Regions from separate parts of the Homo sapiens genome. Here region 1 is linked to region 2. The links come from fine-mapping of genetic effects on gene expression. A gene starts in region 2. The other region holds a variant in brackets. All regions are shown on one strand. Distances are from middle to middle. Region 1 overlaps SLC26A3 (solute carrier family 26 member 3). Region 2 holds the start of SLC26A3 (solute carrier family 26 member 3).

The links. PIP is the estimated chance that this variant, and not a neighbour inherited with it, causes the effect.
Region 1: its variant is fine-mapped to the expression of SLC26A3 in testis (GTEx, PIP 0.93).

What each region holds. Positions count from the first base shown.
Region 1 is chr7:107,778,766-107,788,526 of GRCh38, reverse strand. SLC26A3 (solute carrier family 26 member 3) reads left to right here. Exons shown (of 21, transcript NM_000111.3): 7 at 1,018-1,170; 8 at 1,618-1,700; 9 at 5,175-5,322; 10 at 5,434-5,547; 11 at 5,653-5,730; 12 at 8,764-8,859. Among named protein-coding and RNA genes, the nearest start is that of SLC26A3, 20 kb to the left of the region's middle. RefSeq lists a cis regulatory region at 8,641-8,664 and an enhancer at 8,581-8,725. The variant C/G (reference allele first, on the strand shown) is at 6,168.
Region 2 is chr7:107,798,508-107,808,268 of GRCh38, reverse strand. It overlaps SLC26A3 (solute carrier family 26 member 3), which reads left to right and starts at 5,046. Exons shown (of 21, transcript NM_000111.3): 1 at 5,046-5,158.

The sequences.
Region 1 (9,761 bases), 20 kb after region 2:
AGTTATGATGTTTTCCTGTTTCTTGAAAAGCATGTCTCATTCTTTTAGAATTGAAGTTCTTGGGTCTTTTTGCATCCTGTTTAGAAAACAAAAGAACATTTACCACTATGTAGATAGGGCAGCAGTTCTCCCCTCCTCCAGAGGATGCAAAGTAGAACAGATAGTGTTCTTAGTTTTAAAACTTGGGACAAAATGGTAAAGCTTTTAATAACATAGATTATTTTTTTGAAAATACTTGAGTCAAATATAGGAGAAGTGTTACTTAATTTTTGTTGTTAACATTAGCTCGATGGTAGATGTGTTTGATTTTTAACGACTCCCAAAAGTTTTTGGGAGTTGAGACAGAACTTGCTCCAAATTGGAACCAACACTCTCTTTCATCCAGAGGTATTCCAAAAGTGGAGTGTTCTAGAAGCAATTTGGGATCCAGTTTTGGCCTGCTTGAGCTTTTTGGGGTAAGTGGATATGGAACCCAACTAGCTTCAAGAAGTATGTGCACATGCATAGTGCACAGTTAGCCAGAAAACTATTTTCCAAAAGTGACATAGAGAGTCAGCTAAGAAATATGAGGGGGTGTAAACCCCCCAAGAGGGCCAGGAATTGAGCATACTAAGCAAAACTATCAAAGATCAGAAGTTATTCCCTGGACAGAGTAGTGATGGCTGTGAAATAAAAAATGACGACCAAAGAGACCTAATAAGGGCAGAAGACCAGTGGTAAAAATGTGAAAAGTATCCAACAAAATTTGACACTAGCCAAAGAGATTCCCAGCAAAAATGCCAGAAGCATTCTTAAACTAGTGTGCCACCTACACTATGCTAACTTACTCTTCTCATATCTCCATCGCTACTCTCTACAATTTCACATTCACAATTAAACCGGGGCAATACAGGAAATCACTATCAGTCTCTATCAGTCTTTTTGCTTCCATGTTTATTTTTATTTGTTTGGAGATGCGTTGTATCCAAATTGTGCATTAATATAGGGCTTTGGTGGTTTTTGTTTTTATAATTGTAGGTACTATACTCTGTATTCTCACAAATAGAGAAGACTAATATTGCAGACCTGGTGACAGCTCTGATTGTCCTTTTGGTTGTATCCATTGTTAAAGAAATAAATCAGCGCTTCAAAGACAAACTTCCAGTGCCCATTCCAATCGAATTCATTATGGTAATTGATCATTTTCAGACTCTGTCATAGCTACTCTACTGTTTATATGTTGTAAGTCCTTCACCATTTGTAGCTCAGGAAGTTTTAGTGGGGCAGAGGCCATCTCTGCAGTTTTCGGGCATAATGTTTAGCATGGTTTTATTTTCATTCAGAATTTAATAACTTCCTCTTATGATTTTGAGTTAATTTTTTCCACGTGAGACAAGGATAGTGCAGAGAGCAAGACCCTTGACAAAATGTCGTGTTAGAGCCATTTGAATTTAGCTGTGGTTCTCAATCCTGGCGGCATGTTAGAATTGCCTCCGAATTTCTTAAAAAGTAACAAAGCCTGGGCTGGAGTTCTTACTTAACAGGTACAGAAGTGGGTTTTGGCAATTTATTTTTCTTCAAAGCAAGACTCTTACTTGCATCTCACATTTCTAACTTGGGCCATTTGCAACTTTGCAGACCGTGATTGCAGCAGGTGTATCCTACGGCTGTGACTTTAAAAACAGGTTTAAAGTGGCTGTGGTTGGGGACATGAATCCTGGGTAAGTGTGTCTTCGATGATGGCATCACCATGCACTAAGCAGAGAGTTAGCAGTAGTGACAGGAGAGGTACAATCCGAACTGCAGTTCAGCCTGCAGGTAACCCTCATCAGAATCCTCCCTGCACCCTGCATCCCTAAGGAAGGCTCACTGCTTTCCTTCTAGGAAGGTGCTACAAAGAAAGGCAGGGTGTGCAGTTCTTTTTTTTTTTTTTTCGCCTCCCCACAGTGAATGCAGTTCTTAATATCAGAAGGCTTCTCCTTGTGGAAGAACTCACAAACAAGACAAGCAGGGACACAGACCAGTAGAAACTCACAGGAAAGTAAAAGTTAGCAAAGTAGTGAAAGTCTAAAAATAAGCAAAGTAAGGCCAGACCCGGTGGCTCATGCCTGAAATCCCAGCAATTTGAGAGGCCAAGGTGAGAGGATCACTTGAGCCCGGGAGTTCAAGACCAGTCTGGGCAACACAGCAAGACCCCCATCTCTTGTTTTTTTAAAAATATATAAATAATACCATAAAGAAAAATAGGCAAAGTAAACTGCTTCTCCTCTTAAAGAAACATCAAGTGAAACCAGATTTCCTTGTCCATAAATTACTATAAACAATATGTAATGCTTTGTTTGAAGTTACTGGAGCCAAGTTCTGAAAGTTCAAAGAAGACACTGAAGGAACACAGGCACTCCACGTGAGCAGTCCAGATAGGCACACTCTGTCCTTTCTCCCGATCAGATTCAAAACAAGGGCAGAGCAACTTTTCCCACTGCAAAAGGATGAGAAGTCCAGTTTGTACAAGAATTTTAAAATGTATTTCATTACATTCAGTGGATTGAGAAGGAAGATCATTTTGTGTTGTTTCTTCTAACCACAGAATCAGTTTCTTCCAACTTACCAAGGAAAAGGTGTTTTCCTGTTTTGTTTTGTTTTGTTTTGTTTTTTTAAAAGACTTCTCTCCCTCTCTATGCTTAAGAAATATTTGAGAATTCGAGAAATCAGCATTTATATGTATTTTTTTTACTTTAAAACAGCCAAATTCTTTTAAAGGCAAATATATGTACTTTTTATTTTTTTAAAGAAAAAACATTTTTTTTATTACCAGATCTTCGTGTGTTACATTTCACGAATCTCAAGCATCACTTTTAATTTTTAAAGTTTTAAAGTGGAAATTAGGCTGAAACTGAAAGACTGTTTCTAGGGTTTCCTTCTATTCTGCCACTTTGAAGTGATTTCACTTTACTTAAATGTCTTGGGAGACATAAACCAAATAGAAAAAATGAATACTTGCAAAACCAAACAGGATCTTGTCAGAAGGGCTTGGAAAATAAAAGATAAACTTAAGATCACTGAGTTACACCTTAAATACCTCAACAACAGTCTTATTTAGTGAATGTATTTTCAATGTCAGTGTACCTCTCTCCACAGTGTGTAGGGTGTGGCAACGGGTAACCATTACGTTCAATAGAGTGGCAGTGTAACCTAGTAGGTAAGCTCCAGTGTTCTAGAGGCAGAGTACCTGAGATTTGATTCTGACTCACTTTTTGAGCTTGAGCACATTACCAAAAACTCTGTGCCTCAATGTTCTTGGCTGTAAATATGAGGCTAAAAATAATAGCTATCAAGTAGGATTCTTTTAAGAGTTGAGTGAGTTAATACATGTAACATGCTTAAGTGCCTGACTTACAATAAATGTTCAAATTACACTACTATTGTTAACTAGTTTAACACCTAAATTAGGTAGCAAGCACTTGAGCTTTTTATGCTCCATTTTTTTTTCTGGGTGATGATTGAGTAGGTATTTTAAGTTTTTGTTGATTGCAAATAGACTATAACTGGAAGGTAGTGATTATTAATTATTGCTAACCTACTGTTCATGACTATGCCACCTTAGTAGTTATTTTGCAAAGTCTCATACACTAAATACAAATAATTTGGCTGAAGAAAAGTGCTCATTGAAACAGTAAAGGAAACACAAGGAGTATATTCAGATTCCAGAGGGATCCTATAATAATAGCTAACAGGCACTTTGTGTTTTACAGTGTGTAAATAGTATTTGCATTTATTATTTGACCCTCCCACTAAACTGTGAAGAAAAGAGAACAAGGACGGGCGCCATGGCTCACGTCTGTAATCTCAGCACGTTGGGAGGTCGAGGCGGGTGAATCACTTGTGGTCAGGAGTTCGAGACCATCCTGGCCAACATGGCAAAACCCTGTCTCTACTAAAAATACTAAAATTAGCTGGGCGTGGTGGCACACACCTGTAGTCCCAGCTACTTGGGAGGCTGAGGTGGGGAGATCTCTTGAGCCTGGACAGTGGAGGTTGCAGTGAGCTGTGCACTCCAGCCTGGGAAAGAGGAGACCCCATCTCAAAAAAACAGAGAACAAGTTTTATTATCCTCACTCTACAAATGAGGAAATTGTGACTTGGGAAGGGCAAGTGGCAGAGCCAGGAAATGAACCCAAGTCTTTAGACTGTAAATCTTCATCACATCATTCTGTCTATGGTGTTCAGAGACCAGAACAAAAGAATAATAAGATCCTGGTTATTAAAAAACAAAAACATTCCAAGCTAACTTTTGGATTTATAATGGCATCAGATATAATAGTACTTCTTCAAAATTATGGTATAATAGTACTTCTTCAAAATTAGAGATAAAAATGTATTACCATAGATATTCACAAAATGTGGAACAGCAATTCAGAAAGAGTTGATTGGACCTAATTAACCCACTTCCAATAAGTCTGATGTCAGAAATATATGCTTATAGGAGTGGAACATTTTAGTAAATTGATGTTGAGTTTAAGATACATGCACCTTTTATGATACAATTAGTAAATATAATTGAACTGGTCTACATTCATGAGGCTTAAGCACAGAAGTACGCCCTGTGAGTTGAAGGTTTCTCTGACATATATCACCTTAAAGAGAAATCCACTCTCCATTAGGGTCATGGTTGTCTCTAGCATTTCTGTGAAGTGCAGGGCAGAGTCCAAGGCCCATCTCTTTGCCAGGAGTTTTCCATGAAAGGTTATTATTATCAATGGAAAGAAGACTTTTTTGCTTTCCTTGTCTCACAATTGTGTTTGCTCAAAGGACTTCATGTATGGATAACTATTGGGAGCATTTTGAGTGATGCTTTGCAGCCCAGTGTAACAATACAAGTGGAATAGAAGACATTTTGCAGGAAGCTTATAAGAATACACACGCACATTATAGTGTGGTTTTACTGGCAAAATCATATCTGATTTACCACTATCCTTGGATTGAATTTGCAGTCTTTTACCAAATTCAGGCAGTGTTGCTTTTCAGCATTAAGAAAGCAGATTGCAAAATTGTTAGTGGAGCTAAATTCTCGTTAATCATACTCCAAAGTGAGACACAACTCAGCCTAGATTGCATTCATTCATTGATTTGCCCAATGGTTATATCAGTTTATAAATTGGTTGGTGACATTCAGACTTGCTTAATTTCAATTTTAGATTTCAGCCCCCTATTACACCTGACGTGGAGACTTTCCAAAACACCGTAGGAGATTGCTTCGGCATCGCAATGGTTGCATTTGCAGTGGCCTTTTCAGTTGCCAGCGTCTATTCCCTCAAATACGATTATCCACTTGATGGCAATCAGGTAAGTAAACAAACTACACTGGGTCTCACTGGGCAACTTTAAATAATATTTTGCACACATAATATCAATGGTGCCACTTCTGAAAAAGGTTCATTCTTGTCTTCCTGTCAGGAGTTAATAGCCTTGGGACTGGGTAACATAGTCTGTGGAGTATTCAGAGGATTTGCTGGGAGTACTGCCCTCTCCAGATCAGCAGTTCAGGAGAGCACAGGAGGCAAAACACAGGTATGTCAAGATCTTTGCTGCAAGCACTGTCCTAGCGTTAGTAACTAGGAAATTCAAGCCAGGGGAAAAGTTGAGTTGGTGATGATAATTTTTTTATCCTCACAGATTGCTGGGCTTATTGGTGCCATCATCGTGCTGATTGTCGTTCTAGCCATTGGATTTCTCCTGGCGCCTCTACAAAAGGTAACACTGTCTTTGGATAGCATCTCTACTTTTAGTGGTAAATCAAGGACCCCGGTTCTTAAATTCTGAAAGCACAAACTAAACTAGGGGAAATGAGGTAATGACAAACTCTCAAGTACTCTTCTTAGCCAATACTCTGTATGAGCCAAAAATATTTCTTTTTCCCTGGCAACATGTTCTGAATGTTAGGAACACAGGTGCCCAACCTGCCTTATCTCCTCTACACTTTGCATGTGCATAGCCCCAAATAGAATTAATGTTGAAATAGGAGGGCACCCTGGCACCACACTTTCAACACGCATGGACTGAGTAGAGGTTTTCTTAAAGGTTAAGGTAATCAGGCCCTCTATCTAATTCAGAGAATGGCCCTACCAGCCACACAACTCGTTCTTAGGAACACACCCTGAAGCTTCTAGAACTTTGGTTTAACTCCAAGA[C/G]CAACACTGTTGGATTGTGGGATGGGAGTGAACAGCCAGCACAGACCTCCCAGCCCTACTCTCATGCTCCTCTGCCTATAAGCTTGAGGGTTTAGTTTAATACTTTGTAAACTGCTGCAGCACTCAGATATAAAACATACCATCAGACCCTGGAAAGCAAAGGCTCTCTAGGAAACAAGATGACAGTAAATACATTGTTCCTTGTGGTTTTAATATAATTTTGAGGTGGTACATGGAGCCCTGTTGACCTCCTTCTAATCCTGGCTCTGCTACTTATTATCTGTGTGATTTTGGGCAAATTACTTAACCTTGCTGAACCTCAAGCGCCACATTTGTAAAATAGAAAGGGAAATAATACCCACTACACAGAGTGACTATAAAAATAAATAAGATCATGTATGTGAACTACTTAGCTGAGGGTTTGGCATATGATAAATACTTGATAAATGATAGTCATTATTGTTAATAATATTATTATTCTACATTGTATTACACTCCTGGCTATAAAAGACATAGAGATATGATACAGCCCACAAATGTCTATTGGCTGTTACCTAGGCCTTTTTTCCTTGTTGGTTGGTAGCCGAACGGTGACTGTGGTCCCAGGTTGCTGGACTCCCAGTGTGGTCATCTCAAAAAGCTCAATGGCCAAATCCATCTTCAAGCAGGGCAGAGAACAATTTGCCAAAAATATGCATTCTCCATAGGCTATACTTCTGATTTCAAAATAAGTGGCATAAAAGGAATGAAAAAGTCACCACTAAAGAAATAGAAGAATGTTATCTCAATAAAAATAAACGCACACACACTCACCCCTACAGAGAGAACTCCACCCTCTCATGCTTCTCCCCGGGTGTAAACTTGAGTTCTACCTAGCCCACATCAATTTGGAGACACTAAAGAAATAATTACCAAATCTTGTCCAAGATTTAATCAAAGCCCCTTTTATAAAGGGTCCTGTGATATGTTCTTTTTAGGCCATTGTGGTCAGGAATGTCTTTGTTTCAAACACCCAAATAACTATTTGCTTCTTTTTATCATATGAAGGCAAAATAACCCATAATAAAAGCTCATAATAGGTATTTATTGAGTGCTCACTGCATGTCAGCAGAGCTCTAAGCGTTTTCTCTTCATTTAATCCTTTATATCAAATGCAGTATGGATACCAGATTACTGCGGAAATTATCCCCCTTTCCTTTCTATGATTTCTTAATGCTCTGTAATCTTTACTTTAAAAGTAATCTGTTGTATATGTATGTCATCGTAAATTACTTCAAATTGTTTTTCCGTAGAATACTGACTAGGTGGGAAATAATGCCCAATGGAAAAAAAAAGTCTCTTCGCACAGGTGTCTCTTGACATATTTTATACTTAGAGAATTAAAAGTCCTGCAAAATGGAGAGGCCCGTTGTACAGTCCTCTGACTTCTTTGCCTAGCTACCACAATGGTGACATCTTACACAGCTGTAGTACAATATCAGTACTATACATTAGTATAGTATGTTAAGTAGATTACAGACTTTATTCAATTTTCACCATTTTTTAACTGGCATTCACTTGTGTGCCAAATTTTTTAAAAGTCACTTAAGACCATATTTCTTCTAAACTGTGACCTCTATTCTCACAGTTAGTAAAATTAATTGCTTAGATATTATATTATAAGGATTACCTGTGAAAATTAGAAATAGGCAGATCAGTTCAACTGTCCTCAAGATATAAAAATAAAAACTGTATTTGGCTTTTCTTTGTACACTGTGTTTTCATGGTATAGCAGTATACAAATTCCATACTCCATTCAGAATAAAATAAATTGGCAGGGGGAACAGGACGGTGAGGGGCATGTTCCTACAATTACGATAAAATCCAAAGAATGAAGAGAATATACTTAGCTATTCAGCATTTTTCACCTTAACTATCACAATTCCTGCAAGATAAAAGATCACATTCTGGCTGTGGAAGAATTGGAAGTCTGAAGCTTGGCTGTAGGGATTAGTACTGGCCTGGGAAATATTCATTCATTGGCTCAGCCACTCATTCACTGACTAATTTTAAAGCCCCTCCTGTATGCATTTAACATAGTAGGTTCTGGGGATATAGCAGGAACTAGATAGATATGTTTCATGCTGTCCCAGAAAGCCCGCCTCAAGTCATCTCATTCCAGGACCTCAAGCTTCCCAAGCTATTTTTTTTTTTAACAAAGAGCAACCCCCATCTCCTTGACTCCAATAAACAAACACACATTAGACTGTCTCTGCTTGGGAGGAATTTATTCCAAATGTTAGTCTGTCATAGGTCTGAAGGTCTGCCTTTCTCTGTCCCAAGGTGCAGGCTACTAAACGCCATCAGATCATCTATCTCATAATCACAAGAGCAGCCTAGGCCTTGTCACTGTTGTGGGGACAAAGTCATTCATAGGAACAGGTCAGAGTCCCAGTTCTGGTGTGTCTTGCGTGGCATCGCACACCGGAAAAGGGTGTAATGCTTTGATTTGCTTTGAGGCCCTTTAAAGCACACACTTATCTATAGCCTTCACCTTTGCTTCCCTGTGGTTTATTTCATTAACTTAAAGTACATCTGATGTTTGTGTTTTTCACAGTCCGTCCTGGCAGCTTTAGCATTGGGAAACTTAAAGGGAATGCTGATGCAGTTTGCTGAAATAGGCAGATTGTGGCGAAAGGACAAATATGATTGTGTAAGTAGAGGCAATAGTATTTGAAAGAGAGATAAATCACAATAGCATTTTAATGCTAATGTGAAATGCATGTTTATATTGTAAACTAAGTGAAATTTTGTTTCTATATATCTGTTCAAAAAAACCTTAGTTTGTTTTATTTGCTATTTTTAAATTGCATATTCTAATGGTCATTTTCTGGGACTTTAATTTTTTTAAATGGCTACTTTTAATTTAAAAGAATGGGCTCCATGAAACACTAGTCTAGAACTTCCTTAGGCCTATTCTAAAAGTTCTTGCAGTAATCCCAAGTACCACAGAAACTCTCTGAATTTAGGGTACGCATGGCTTCTGTTCTTCATTACATAATGTTTTTGTTTCCACGAATCTGTGAAGAACTTAATTTCTGAACATTGCTTTTGGAAATACTCTCATTTGGAAAGGCTCCCCCTTGCTCTCACATGCTTTGCTATTTTAACAGGGTCAAAGTCTGTGGTGTAAAAATGCCTGTTAACATACCCTTAGGTATTTAAAGATCATAACTAGTAAACTACACTTGGTTTACTTTTGTGGGGCGTTTTAACACCCTTTTGGCATGCTAAAATTCTTATAAAGATAGCAACCATTAATTAAATCAACAGACCAAGAGTAAAACATTAGTATAAGCTCTACCAGTTAATTTGCTGATTTTTTTTTAAGAGATAGGATCTCCCTCTGTCACCCAGGCTGGAGTGCAATGGTGCCATCCTAGCTCACTATAACCTCAAACTCCTGGGCTCAGGCAATCCCTCTGCCCCAGCCTCCTGAGTAGCTATGACTACAGCTGCACACCACCATCCTCAGCTATTTTTTTTTATTTTTTGTAGAAGCAGATTCTCACTATGTTGCCCAGGCTAGTCTTGAACTCCTGGCCTCAAGTGATC
Region 2 (9,761 bases):
GCCCTGTAGTTAATTTTATATGTGAAAATTTGTAATCTTTTTCTTAAAACGACATCCACAAATTGCATAATCTTCATGCTCCACTGAAGCTAGTTACAGCCCTGCTAATGATGGATGTGAAATGTATATGGTTGTACTTACTTTTCCCTGATTACTAGTGAACTTGAACATATTTTCATATGTTAATTGGCACTTCAGGTTTTCTGTGAATTTTGCCTTTTGTTTATTGATTTGTAGGAGTTCTTGATATCTTCTGGATATTAATCTTTTCTAAGACTTAACTGGGCAAATACCTTGTTCAGTCTAGAGCTTGTCTTCACTTTTGTTGTGGTGTCTTCCATGTTTTAATTTTAATAAAGATGGATTTGTCAGTCGTTTCCTTTATGATATGCACATTTATGTGACTTGTTGAAGAAATACTTTTATTCCAAGGTTATAACAGCATACTTTTTCTTCTAAAAGTTTAAAATTTTACCTTTTCTATTTAGGCCTTTGGTCAATTGAAAAAATGTGTGTGTGATTGCTGTGAAATAGAGATCTAAATTTTATTTGTTCTACATGGATAGCCAGTTGTCTCAGCACCATTTATTGAATAGTCCATCTTTTCTCTAATGCCACGTAACCTCTATTATATATCAAGTTTCAATACATGTTTCTAGGCTTTCTGTCCTGTTCCATTGGTATATTTATTTCCCACAGCACAAACATATAACTGCCATAATTACTATAGCTTGATAATAAGTCTTTATATCTGCAAAATGTTTCCCCATTTTTTCTTCTTCAAAGTTGTCAACAAATGTTGCATGTTCTCACTAATACGTGGGAGCCAAAAAAGTGGATCTCATAGAGAGAGAAAGTAGAAAGATGGCTACCCACAGGCTGGGAAAAGTAGCAGGGAGTGGGGATGGAGAGCTGTTGATTAATGGATACAAACGTGCAGTTAGATGGAAGGGATAAGTTCTAGTGTTTCATAACACAGTAGGGTGGCTGTAGTTAACAATAAATTATTGTATAGTTCAAAATAGCTAGAAGAGAAAATTTGGAATGTTCCCAAAACAGAGAAATGATAAATGTTTGAGGTGATAGATATCATTATTACCCTGATTTGATCATTACACATTGTATGCATATATCAAAATATCACATATATCCCATAAATATATACAATTATTATGCATCAATTTCAAAAATTGTCTTGACGTCTTGACTTTTCTTGGCCCTTTGTTCTTCCATACAAGTTTTAGGCCAAGTTTGTCCAGTTCTATGAAAAAAAAAAAAGAAAAGCTTTTTCATTGTAATAGCATTTATGTAATAGATTAATTTGAAGAAAACATCTATATGATATTGAACTTTCACACTCATGAAGATTTATGGCTTCATATTTTTCTTTTTTTCTTTTTCTTTTTTTTTTTTTGTTTTTGAGACGGAGTCTCGCTCTGTCGCCCAGGCTGGAGTGGAGAGGTGCGATCTCGGCTCACTGCAAGCTCCGCCTCCCGGGTTCACGCCATTCTCCTGCCTCAGCCTCCTGCTTAGCTGGGACTACAGGCGCCTGCCACCACCACGCCCGGCTAATTTTTTGTATTTTTTAGTAGAGACTGGGTTTCACCGTGTTAGCCAGGATGGTCTCGATCTCCTGATCTCGTGGTCTGCCCACCTCGGCCTGCCAACATGCTGGGATTACAGGCGTGAGCCACCGCACCCGGCTATATTTTTCTTAGGTTTTGTTTTTGTCCTTTAATAATGTTTTCTAATTATCTCTATAAAGTTCATCATTATATATCTTTAGATAAGATTTACTCCAGCTAGGCACAGTGGCTTGCGCCTGTAATCCCAGCACTTTGGGAGGTCGAGGTAGCAGGATAGCTTGAGGCCAGGAGTTGGAGACCAGCCTAGACAACATAGAAAAAACCCATCTCTACAAAATAAAATTAAAATTAAAAAATTTACTCCTGTAATCCCAGCACTTTGGGAGGCTGAGGCGGGCAGATCACGAGATCAAGAGTTCAAGACCAGCCTGACCAACATGGTGAAACCCCCATTTCTACTAAAAATACAAAAATTAGCCAGGCGTGGTGGTGCGTGCCTGTAATCCCAGCTACTCAGGAGGCTGAGGCAGGAGAATCGCTTGAACCCAGGAGGCAGAGGTTGCAGTGGGCTGAGATCGAGCCACTGCACCCCAGCCTGGGCAACAGAGTGAGACTCCATCTCAAAACAAATAAATAAATTAAATTAGCCAGGTGTGGTGGCATGTGCCTGTAGTCTAAGCTACTTGGGAGGCTGAGGCAGGAGGATCACTTGAGCCCAGGAGTTCAAGGTTTCGGAAAGCTATGATTGAGCCACTATACTCCAGCCTTAGTGACAGAACCAGACCTTGTCTCTTAAAAATAAAAAACAAAAAGGATTTATTTCTACTAATCTTTGTAGCTTTTGTTGCTATTACCAATGATATCTTTCTTTTTATTACATTTACTACATGGTTATTATTAGTATATAGGAAGGCTATACACTATGTAATATATATCGTGTAATAATTTGCCTTTGTTCAGCTTGTATCCATCAATCTTGCAATACTCTCTTATTTGTTCTAAAATAAATCATTTTTATGCTGATCAATAATTCTGAGCCTCTACCTTTAAGTGCAATATTTTCCAGTTCTTCCATCAACCACATCTAAATACAAAATTTAATCAGTGTATAGTGGTTCTGAATAAATATTCTGTACATCTGTTAAAATTATAAAAAGCAGTATTATACAGTAAAGACATGACAAAGTTAGGCTTTCTGGATTCTAGCTGGCTTCAATAAAAGCCAATAAAAATTAAAAATTGAGATTTCACCACAAGTGAAAACTCAATCTATTCATTTGTAAAATAGGAATAAAAATACTAAGCTATCTATGGTTGTTATGAGGATTAAATGGGATAAACCCAATAAAACACATTGCAAAGTTACAGCCCATACTAAACACTAATTAAAGTTAGCTAATGTTGATAAAAGCATGATAAGTGGCACCACAGCTCATTCAGTTACGCAGTTAGCACAGGTGTGAGCCAGATTTAAAAACACAGGTTAGATTAATTTCTAACAAACGCTAATGACCTGTCCACATTCTTTTGGAATTGTCTTATAGCAAACATAATTCATTGATTGAACTGTCATTGAACCACTATTTATTGAGTCATTGTTCTGTGGTAGATTCATTCTAGGTACTGGGCATACAGCAGTGAATTCGCCAAAGTCCCTGCCTGTGTGGGGCTTTCATTCTAATGAGAAAGCCAAACATTAGCCAAGTAAATAATTGTGTATTTTTAAATTATGATGCTATGTTTTAAAAAGTACATGCAAATTAACCAAGGGACTTAAAAAAATACTCTGAGAGAATGCCACAAGAGGGGCTAATTGAGATTAGGAAGTCAAAGTGGTTCTCCTTGAGAAAGTGATGTTGAAGCTAAGTAACAGCCAAACCGAGAGAGAGAGAGAAGTGCATTTAAGCAGAGAAAATGATGTCTGCAAAGAGTGGGCAAATTTGGGACTACAGGAGGCCACCATGGTGGGAGTGGAGAAAACAAAAGTAAGAGCAGAGTCAGATGAGGTTGGAGAGTTGTGCAGGGGGAGATCATGCAAAGACTTTGGAGGCCTGTTTTCCCTCTGTGTAATCATCAGCCCCACAAAGAGGACTAGTGTGAAAAGATCATTCTGATTAATGAGTGGTAAAGAGATGGGGAGGGCTGCGAGAGGAAGCAAGAAGTGCAGCAAAGGTAAGAGTGAAGATGAAGAAAAGTGATGGCTTTGGGATGTATTTTGGAGGCATGCTCAATAGGGTTTAAGGATGGATTGGCTGCGGGTGGGGAGAAGGTCTGCAAGAAGAAGTGTCAGAGATGGTTCCCAGGTCTCTGACATGAGTAAAGGGGAATATTCTTTACTGAAATGGGGAAGACTAGAGATGGAGCAGATTTGGGAGGAAAGATCAAGAGGTCTTAATCTCGATATGTGTCGTGTTTGAGATGCCTATGAGGCATCCAAGCAAAGATGTGGAATAGGCAGTTAAATATGTGGACCTAGAGAGCTGGGGTTAGAAATCTGAATGTTGCTGGGAGCCATAGGACTCTTATTTAGGGTAAGAGGGTAGCAAGAGAGGAGAAGGAAATTCAGAACAGAATCTTAGGAAATGCCAAAGAAAGAGTTAGAGGAGAAATTGGCAAAAAGGATGAGGTGAAAAACAAGTGTGTTAAAAATTTTTTTTTAGCATTTCAAGAAGAGAAGATTTTAGCCCGGCATGATGGCTGAGGCCTCTAATCCCAGCTACTCAGGAGGTTAAAGCAGGAGGATCACTTCAGGCCAGGAGTTTGAGACCAGCCCGGGCAACACAGCAATACCCCATCTCTAAAATTAACTAATTAGTTAAATAATTTTTAAAATAAAAAGAGGAGTTCATGAAAGTGTAGTCAGCAATGCCAAATGCTTTTAAGTAAGATGAGAGTTGAAAGTATTCATTGTGTTTAGCAACATAGGGTTTATTGCTCTTAGGAAGAGCTGTGGTGGGGGCAGAAATTGGAATGCAGATATGGCCTGTGGCTGGGAGTTGGGTGAGTGTTCCTAATGAGGGCCTTTATCATACCAGGAGTTAACCTATACACCACACTTCTGCAGCCCATGACAGATTCCATGGAGTCATCCAGCCAAAAAACACCACCACTAAACTCTCATCTAAACAGGTTGGTGAAATGTCAAGGAGATAACCCTTGAGAAGATTCTTTTTTTTTTTAAGTACACGTGAGCATCTGCTGTGCAATCTCTGCAAACCAATGAAATTACGTACACACAAGTGCATTAAACCACCCACTGGTGGTTTAATCTCACAAGGAACTTGAGGAAGCAATCTTCATCATCACTTCTGCTGATCAAAGTCTCAAAGGTCAAGACCACATTGCAGTCTTTTCATTGTTGTAAAAGTTAATGAGAGTTAATTATTAAAGCTGACAGAAAGGTAATTTGTCCACTGTCTTACATAGCCTATATATAGACATCCCTATGCATATGGATGCACACAGAGCCTGTAGACCTGAGTGGATGGACACTGCCTCTTAGAACTAGAACTTAGAACTTTATCTTGAAAATGTACCACTGTTGCAGAAGCTCCTCACAGAGTATGTGTCAGGTAGGAACCAAATTTATGATTGTTATATTCAAACTGGTTTTCTGTTCCTTGAAAATGGTATTTTTTCTGATCAAAGCCTATTTAGGAGTTATTATGTTCTTGAGTTTATTCCATGTGTGTGAATATTTTGAATGAATCCACTAATAAGATATGCATGTATGTCTGGAGCGCTAGCAATGTAGAATAAATATTTAAGTAGACTTTAACAAGTAAATGGTTGTAGGCATCATTAAGTCTTAAATAGCCTTTTCAAAGATATTAGTGTTCTTGTTTTAATTATTCAGATAATTCCTTTAATTCTCCACTCAAATCTGACTTTATAGATAGATTGTCTGCTCTGAGGGTTGGCAAAAAAAAAAAAAAAAAAAGCAAGCTTTAAGGAAAGAGTTTCTCCAGGAGAGAGAATCACCTACTAGAAAGGATTCAGAAAGGCCATCTGGTCCCAGCCAGGCATAGGGATATGTATCTATAGTCCTAGCTACTCAAGAGGCTAAAGCAGGAGGATAGCTTAGCCCAAGAGTTTGAGGTCAGCCTAGGCAACATGGCAAGACCTTGTCTCTTAAAAAAAAAGGGAGGGGGTAGGGGACATATGGTCTAGAAGTGAGAGATTTATCTGCTAGACATCCTAGAAAGTCCAAGACTAAGGGAAACACGGAGAGAAGAAAAGGCAATGAGAGTAAGAAGGATAGAGACTGGAAAGAGAAGAGAGATGGGGAGAAAATGGTCACTGGAAAGTAGCAGAATGCCCTATGCCACAAGTAGTATAATATAATATAATACATTAGTAATGTATGGGTACTTATCCCATACATTACTAACTCTATCAAGATAAAATCTATTTTATTCTTTAAAATGTCAGGAAAAGATTATACAACTTTCTTTATATATGCAAGTGAGGAACAATTTATCAAATTATTGGACTAAATAATTCTCTTTTCTGAAGTAAGTTAGTCATTTGGAAAAACTGTGTCATGAAATTTGACTGCATAAAGATCATTCCTTTTTTTTTTTTTTTTTCTGAGACGGATTCTCACTCTGTCGCCCAGGCTGGAGTGCAGTGGCACAATCTCTGCTCACTGCAACCTCTGCCTCCCAGGTTCAAGTGATTATCCTGCCTCAGCCCCCCAAGTAGCTGATACTACAGGCACGCTCCACTGTGCCTGGCATTTTTTTTTTTTTTTTTTTGTATTTTCAGTAGAGACGGGGTTTCGCCATGTTGGCCAGGCTGGTCTCGAACTCCTGACCTCAGGTGATCCTCCCACCTCAGTCTCCCAAAGTGCTAGGATTACAGGCATGTGCCACCCCATCCGGCCAAGGATTATTCCTAATGAAAATTTAGGAAGCAACTAATTTGATTTCAGAAACAAGAAAAATGGGGTAACACAATACATACTTTGCCTTCTCCCTCTGGATAAGGGAATAAGTAAGTATATAAAGAAATGAACAAATGTTTAATACCTCCTAAACAGCTCATATTCGACTAAGAAACAAAATCGTTCAGAAAATGAGAATGAATATTTTTCAATTACAAGAATAAATATGTAATAACACAGTCTGGTGCTTCTCTACAATAAAGGTCTTTGATTCTCCAAAGAGAAGAGAAGAGGCTCCTCTAGCCTCTGTGTCACTTTGTTGAGAAGCAAGGGGAAGAATAAAGCAAGTCACCTCAAGGAGATTTGTCCCCAGGCCACCAGGCTCATGTTTTGTGTTGTGGATATTGAGTGTAGGAGTGTGAGGCTTTCATGCTCAAAAGCAAGGACCCTGATGGTGCCTCACCTTGTTCTTTTACCTTGTCTCTCTTGGGGGTAGGGGCTGAGACCCCTGACATTGAATATGTAGCAGAGAAGAAGACGTAGTGGAGAGAGTCAGTTATTCACTAGATGTGGCTTCTCATCCTGGCTCTGGGAAGTTGAGAAAGTCATTTATCTTCTCTCATCTCCATTTCTTCATCTGTAAATTAGCGACAATACAGCCTATCTTGTCTGCCTCCATCCACAGTAATACTCAAGGAAGAAAAGTGAAAGTGCTCAGAAAATCTCAAAGCCTTACAGAAATGGCCAGGGATTCTCTTTTGCCTGCTGTGAGCCTACTGGGTGTGAAATCCCTTGCTATGGTGCATCCCAACATTTCTCTAATGGTTTAGCCTATGGGCCAACAAAGCCTTCTGTTTCAGTGTTTGGAACTCTCAATAACCTTTCACATGATTTGCTTATTGCCCACTGCTTTGTCATCACCCCTGCCAAACCTATCTGTTCTTTAAAGTCTAACACAAGACTCACAGTTCCTTCACAAAACCTTCCTAACTCCAACCCACATTTACATCCCTTCTTCCAATTTATTATCTGCACCAATTATTTTGGGCACTTCTCCTGTGTATGTAAACTTTGGAGTTTAGGTCTACGTCATTTATATATCTTTTGCTCATAGTTCAGTTTATTTCAACAAACTTTCTTGTATACTTACTATGTCATAGGACCTAACAAAAGAGGGAAAAATGGTTAAGATTTGGGCCTTGCCCTTGGGAAACTCAGTCTTAAAGGGAACAGAAACATAAACAAATAATGTATGACATGGAATAGACATATATACAAGGTACTTACAAGAAGGAAATGATCAACTCTATCTAGGGATTCCATGAAGGCTTTACATCATTTTCTTATCTTCTACAACTGTGTTAGGAACTGAGTTCCTGACAAATAATAGGCTGATACATGTTTGTTGAAGGAATGAAGAAATGAATCAATGGTCAGCTGAGTTGTGTTTTGTTTGTTTGTTTGTTTTAGAGACAGGGTTTCTTTATATTGGCCAGGCTGGTCTTGAACTCCTGGCCTCAAGCAATCTCCCCACTTCAGTCTCCCAACGTGCCAAAATTACAGGCATGAGCCACTGCACCCAGCTGTGCTGAGTATTTTTAAGAATGAATTGGAATCTACCAGGTATTGGAGAAGAAGAACACAAAGGAAATCATGTGTACAGAGATACGGAACTGTTAAATATCATAGCGTGTTAGGAACCTGCTGCAATTGTGAAGGAGGAGTGAAGAAGCTTGTGAGATAGACCAGAGCCAAAACATGAAGGACCTTGTATGTCATTCTAGGAAGCTCGGATAGCTAGATTATTTTAAAACTATGTTAAAACAAACTGGGATAAAAATGGAAAACTGCTACTTCTAAAGATAAGCTCAGAGTAAACATAAAGTCATAGAAAAGTTGGCAGCACTAACATTTTCCAACAGGTTCCAGCTGACTTTTGTGGACCAGTTGTAAATTCCACCAACAGTCAATATTTAACTCACTTCTGAGACTGCTACCTATGAACTTAAGGCTAAGAAGTCTCCCTTTGTATACCCTGCTTTCAGTTTTAAGAACAGCCCTAGAAGGAAAATAATGGTCTCCTCCTTTTGCTTTAAGGAAATTGAAGCCTTGGGCCGGGTGCTCACGCCTGTAATCCCAGCATTTTGGGAGGCCAAGGCAGGCAGACCACTTGAGGCCAGGAGTTCGAGACCAGCCTGGCCAACATGGCGAAACTCCATCTCTACTAAAAATATAAAAACTTAGCTGGGCATGGTAACGGGTGCCTGTAGTCCCAGCTACTCGGGAGGCTGAAGCAAGAGAATCACTTGAACCCAGAAGGTGGAGTTTGCAGTGAAATGAAATCGCGCCACTGCACTCCAGCCTCCACCCTGGGCGACAGAGCAAGACTCTGTCTCAAAAAAAGAAAAGAAAAGAAAAGAAAATTGATGGCTTGAATCACTGGCTTATAGCAAACATAGTTAAGATATGGCAAGGCAAGGATTTGAAACCTGGTGTGCTTAGTTGCCAAAGTCTCACTCTTTTCTGTTGTACCTCCCGATTAATTTAGGTTTGACTTCCTTCTTCAGCATCTTCGGCAATGTAGTAATAGAATTGATGAAAAATAGTAGTAACAATTATTGCCCACCTCAGCCTTTGACCCCTTCTGAGCTCTCTTAATCAACCTCAGTGCTGAGACCCCTCCCCTCCATTCACCACTCCAGCCCTCTCCCATTCTGATGCCATCATCTCCCTGCTTCTATCCAGCCTCACGCTAACCAGAATGTGGAGCTTTTTGTGAGCTTGATTTCTGATTCCTCTGGCTGCCGATGGAGATCCCTCTGAAGGTGCTCACTGGAGCAATTATTCTGCTTGTTCCCCCATCTCTCACCCACTCCCCCAAGTATAGTTATCAGGACGCTGCTGTATTTCCCATTGTCCAAGGACTAATTCATGAAATAGGGCTGGCTTACCTCTGGTTTTGCACTGACTGGCTCAGAGATATTTTGAGATCCATGAGGTGAGTTGTGTTTTCAGCAGATTTCAGGCACAGTGTGGCATTTTCAGTGATGTCTCTATCGAAGGCCTTCCTCAGCTTGAACAGCTATGAAGGGGTGATGCTGCTAGGAGCTGCCTTGTCCAAGAGTGGAGGCATCTAATGTGACTGCGGAGGGGCTGGGAAGTGTTCTGCACCCTTGCTTGTCTGCTGGTTTCAAATGACCGCTAATTAAAGACAAATCCTAGCACCGCTCATCAGCATCTTGGTTCAAATTAGTTGTTTCCCAGCAAAAAGGGCAGACCTCTGAAAGACT